Regions from separate parts of the Homo sapiens genome. Here region 1 is linked to region 2. Evidence: fine-mapped expression QTL. A gene starts in region 2. The other region holds a variant in brackets. All regions are shown on one strand. Distances are between the middles of the regions.

Region 1 (2,500 bases), 53 kb after region 2:
ATGAACCTTGGGCGTTACTCCCAGACGAACAGTGCCATTTCAAAATCTTAGCCATAATGCTCCTTTAAAGATTACATGTAATGCTATATGGCACAGTGATTCAAAAAGAATACCAGAGGTTGATATAAAGCATGTTTAAATTTTTTTTTGAAAATAAAAATGATAGGAACAGTAAGACAGTCTGGAGCAGAAGCTGAAGTGGAGTATAGTCTCTTTTTCTTACTTATTATGAATATGTACGAGTTTTATAAAACATAGTGTAACACTGAATGCGTGATTTCTAAAAACATCTAAAATGGAGAACAACTCTCCAGTATTAATTAATTAATTCATTCATTCAACAAGTACTTATTTGTTATCTACATTTTAGCTACTGAGGAAAGAACAATGAATGTAAAAGACAAGGGCTCTGGGGTGTATAATTGGGAAGCTGTAGCTTAAAAGGAGAAACAGATGTTAAAAGATAATTATACAAATAAACATATACTCACTATCATGGAAGTCTTATTGTGGAAAAGCACAGGATCCCATAAGAACAATTAACAGCGATACCAAATAATAAATCAAGAGTGAGAGTGTCTATTAAGGCAACCCCAAAGTAGTAGCATTTATGGTAAGAACTGCTACAATTGAGAAATTGAGAGAAGCCCAATATGACCTTCAATTTCGCTAATCATTTTTTTCTGTTGTATACAATGTGATGTTAATTCATCTAATAAAAATTTTAATTCTATGATTTCCATTGTTCCACTTTTATAGTTTCAACTATCTTCTGAAACTCCCCATTTCTTTATACACTATATCAATTTTTCCTACTGACTTTCTCTTAAACTTTTTATTTGGAAACTATTACAGATTCCCAGAAAGTTGTGAAGATAGCACAGAGGGGCCCCATGTACCCCTCACCCAGGTTCTCCAACTGATTACATCTTACATAACTATGATATAATATCAAAGTCAGGAAAGTGACATTGACATAAAGTGTGTATAGTTCTGTGTAATTTTATTGCATATGTAGATTCATGTAACAAGCATTCCAATTAAGTTACAGAACTATTCCATTACTGCAATGATCTCCCTCACACTAGTTCTTTATAATCAGTCATACCCATCCCACATC[C/T]TTCCTCACTATCACTGACTCCCGGCAACCACTAATCTGTTCTCCATCTCTATAATTTTGTTATTTCAAGAGTATTATATCAATGGAATAATACAGTATTATAACCTTTTAATACTGTTTTTTTTCACTCAACCTAATGCCCTTGAGAGACATCCAAGTTTTTGCATGTATCAACAGTTCATTTCTTTTTTACTGGAATAGTACTCCATAGTGTGTATATACCACAGTTTGTTTAACCATTCATCTATTGTAGGATATTTTGGCTGTTTCCAGTTTTGGGCTATTTCTTATGAACTTTAAAATACACTAATTATAGTTATTTATACTAATTATCTTTTAGGCCAATATTTGAGACTTTTACTGCTCTGTTTCTGTTGACAAATGTTTTTCTCTTGATGATGGTCACATCTTCCTGTTTCTTCTTATGTCTAGTAATTTTTTACTATATATTGGATATTTTGAATGATGCACCATAGAGACTCTAAATTCTGCTATCTTCCCCAAAGAATGTTGAGTTTGGTTTGGTAGGCAGTTATATGACTAACATATCATCCAGAATATGTGGAGACTTGGTTTTATGTGTCATTAGGGTGAGCCTATTTTAGATTTTCCCTTAACCCAAGGGGAATCCCTTATTCTTGTGACTTATCTTTACCCTTAAGGTATAAGCCTCTTGAGATTTTTATGGAAAACCTAATGTGCTTACCACCCCCACACTCCCCAACAGGCTGGATTCAAACTCCAAACTCTGACTTTTATATAGTGGACAGTAACTAAAATCTCTGTTCATTTTTCTTTCCCCCAGCTTCTAGCTATTTTTTCTTTCTGTGCTCCTTGGTATTTGTACATTTGTACATTTGTAGCTCAGGGATCAAGCTGGGGAAGTTTACACTCAGGTGTCGAGTTTCTGTTGTGGCTCACTTCTAAAATTTCCAGGAACTCTGGAACAATCAAACTCCATGATCTGACTCTTCAGGTCAATACAACTTCAGTTTCTGCTGAAGTTTTGCTGCCCCACATCCCTCAGTCTGGGACATGGCTTCAGGGGAAAAGCTGCATAAACATGGATTTCACACAGTGTGGTTCCTTCCTTTTGAAAGTTGATTCTCTTTTAGTTTTTGCTTGTTTTGTTACTCTCCCATGTCTTAAAGCAGATTTCTAAAAATGTGCTCACAGTTTATTATTTCTATCAATAGGAGGATTACTCTGATACAAAGTACTCTGCCCTGTTTTAATATGATTTGTTTTTGAATTTTGTCAGAATTATGTCTATTTTTCTGTGGAAATCATTTGTGGAGTTCGTAGTCTAACTTTCCATGGATAAAAACATATTTTAAAAAAATCTCCTTTAAGCATTGTCTTCTGACAGTTGAGGAATTT
Region 2 (3,022 bases):
ATTAAGCGCTGTCTCTCTTGCAAGTTGTTAACTATTTTGGAAACCATATTTGTTGCAGGCTAAATTTTGTCCCATCCAAATTCAAGAGTAAAGATCAAATTCTTCTTAGTACTCAGTGTTGCTTGAAAGATGAGTTAGGACCTAATTCTCTGTCCTCTGACTAAACCTTGGGCCCTGTTAGGTGTGTCATTTTACCTTATTTAGTCATGTTACGTGGCCTTAGGTAAGCCATATCATTTCAGTTCCTCAGCAGGGGTAGTCAAGCATGCAAACTGAGATCACCGTTTCTGGCCTCAGACCAGTGATTTTGTAACTACTATCTATGTGACCTTACAAAATATATTACTTCAAGTTCATTTCCTCATCTGTAATACCCACTGTACAAGGCTGTAGCAGGAATTAGTAAGATAAAAATATATGAAGGGTTTGACATATAGTAGATGCTTGAAAGTACTTTTCTCCCAATTATTATAATACATAAAATTTAAGTTTTTTTCTCAAAATAGACCTTACCCATCATTAGATTTACAGAAAGACTCAGGTGAAGTAGTTTTCCAGACTTCTCATTTTAACTATTACTAGGGGAGCTCCTATTCACAAAGTATCTTAAGACAATTACATTTAAGATAGGGCAATGAGTGTTGTGCATCTATCTGCATTAAGAACTAGAAAGTGGTAAATAAGTGAGGGACAGCTAAAATATCATGAAAACTCACGGGAGAAAGAAATTGACTTCACCTTTTAGAGTTGAGGCACACAGAGAAAGGACGTAGGAGGTAAACCTAGAATGCTGCTAATGAGTAGTTTTTCTCTGCGTAGCCCATAGATTGAATACTTTCTCTTCTGCTTCACCATTTTGCACCACTTTTATTATTAAATTTATAAATTAGATTGTAATTCCTGTTTCTGGTCTACTAGTTATTATTATCCGCTTTTGCAGGACATGCTCATTTTACCACCACTGAATTCTTCAGCACCTGATTAAAGTAACAGCTGTAATAAGAAATAACAGAAAGGATATTTGGACTTTGAGCTTAGTCCAACATTAATAGCATGGCTCTTGAGTCTGATTGATTTTGTTTAACTTCAGACTGGGCCTCTTACTTAGGTCAGTGATTTTTAGCGTTGCCAGATAAAATACAGGACACCAGTTAAATTTGAATTTCAGATGGACAAATAATTTTCAGTATAAATATATCCCATACAATATTTAGGGGATACTTACAACAAAATATTATTGTTTATCTGAAATTTCACATTTAACTGGACGCTTGGTATTTTCATTTGCTAAATCTGACAACCTTAGTGACTTCTCTAATCATGTTTGCTTTCTGCAAATAGGGCTGAAAATAGTACCTTCTCCCTAGGATGATCTATATACAGAACGTTGCTCATGGCAAAACCTTAATTTACCTTGCAAATCAGGATACTTTAGTAGAGACTTCTGTTAAAACTCTGGGACAATGACCATGCCCAGGCACCCAAAAAGATGGTTACCTTTATTCGACGGTTTTCTAAAGAGCACAGAGAAAGTTCAATAGAACCCTAAACAAAGGTACAAACTGCGTTGAAAGATACGTAAATGTGCCTTTAATAGCACAAGGGTATCTTAGCCACATCACTGCAAACTGCAGTCTCCCTGGTTACGGGGAAAGCGGTAGTTCGGTCTCTGCGCAAGCGCACAGGGACTTCTTGGGTCCACGCCCCTCCCCGCCGGCGAGAGTCACGTGGGCGAGTCGTAGCTTTAGACAAGCGGCCAGCCTTGACACGTGACCCAAGCCCCAGCTTCGCGCAGGGATGGAGCCGGAAGAGGGGACGCCCTTGTGGCGGCTGCAGAAGCTGCCGGCCGAGCTGGGCCCGCAGGTGAGGGCGGGTACCGGGGGAAGCGGCGCGGGGCCTGGGATTCGCGACAGCCCGGCGTGCGGATCAGGCCGGGTGCGACCCGGACGCCTTCGCAAGCTCCCTAGGGAAGGGAGGAGGAAGGGGCGTGATTTCGGGTGGTTGGTCCCCGCCTTCCCTGGGGAGCCTAGGAGGACAGCTTGGGGCGCCACCCCCAGCCTAGAGGTGCAGCTCCAGGGGCTTTGCGCGCAGAAGCGCCCACACCAGACTGGGCTTTGAAAGCTTAAGTCGGTGTTTGCTGCCTCTTAGTATACGTTTTCTTAATTCATTCAACACATAACCTCCCAAAGGCTCCCTACCTACCGGACAGCAGGTACAGAGCTAGGTGCTGGAATACAATGTGACAAAGACCGAAGCGGACCCTGCCTCCCCCCTTGAGGGTGGTTGGTAGGAAGAGAAATAACTGGGCGAGTTACTTTAGTTAGGATCGTCCCAAGAGGTGATGTACCCATTGACTTCCAGTCTGTAAAAGAACCTGGCTTGTAAGAATCTGGAAAAAGCAACCACATTCATTTGTTCAGCCAGTTTTTCATTGAAGTCTACCATAGATTGAGCGCCCCGATGGGATGAGGTAAATGGTGAGTGAGACACAGCCTGTGCCCTGGTGGAGCATCTTTTTTATAAGTCTCAATTTTGGCTTCCTGTTTCCTCTATTCCATTTATACTGGAGAAAGTGTGGAGGAGACAGAAAGGAATGAACTTACCTCCTGCCAGGGTCAAGAAAAAAAAACACCTAATTCTTTTCTTTGTTTTTGCAAGTGAGGAACCTGAAATGTCAGCAGAAATTTTGGCTAACTTGCCCAGGATTGCCCATCCAGTTAGTGGCAGAGCTGGAACTTATGCTCAGATCTGTTGATTCTGAGTGTTTTATTGGCTTTTGGCTCTCCTTGTCTTCACTCTACCCATTTAGATAAGGCCCATAACCTTTATTACCATATATGTCGATGACTTCTAAATCTTTAGGTCCAGCCAAAAATTTCTTCCTCTATGGTTCAAGAATGCCAGGTAAAAAACAAAACAAAACCCCAAAAACCCCAAACCAAAATCTCTTCCCTGAGTGTCAGGCTTCTGCCACAGGTACCTCAAATTCAGTATGCCCTTGCCTCAGCTCTTCTTTCCCCCT

Which allele goes with the higher level. Positions count from the first base shown, and alleles are read on the strand shown. Sizes are in standard deviations (SD) of each study's normalised expression.
For the expression in neutrophils of the gene that starts at base 1,747 in region 2, C is the high allele of the variant in region 1 and T is the other (moderate effect, 0.66 SD a copy in BLUEPRINT).

Evidence for each region. PIP is the estimated chance that this variant, and not a neighbour inherited with it, causes the effect. A credible set is the group of variants that fine-mapping cannot tell apart.
Region 1: its variant is the best candidate, but not a certain one, in a credible set for the expression of COMMD8 in neutrophils (BLUEPRINT, PIP 0.85).

Annotation. Positions count from the first base shown.
Region 1 is chr4:47,410,126-47,412,625 of GRCh38, reverse strand. The region is part of intron 8 of GABRB1 (gamma-aminobutyric acid type A receptor subunit beta1); the gene reads right to left. Among named protein-coding and RNA genes, the nearest start is that of COMMD8, 52 kb to the left of the region's middle. The variant C/T (reference allele first, on the strand shown) is at 1,121.
Region 2 is chr4:47,462,427-47,465,448 of GRCh38, reverse strand. It overlaps COMMD8 (COMM domain containing 8), which reads left to right and starts at 1,747. Exons shown (of 5, transcript NM_017845.5): 1 at 1,747-1,863. The coding sequence starts at 1,798. It overlaps LOC107986277 (a long non-coding RNA gene), which reads right to left and starts at 1,566. Exons shown (of 3, transcript XR_001741683.3): 1 at 1,498-1,566. RefSeq lists an enhancer at 59-108 and a silencer at 1,757-2,016.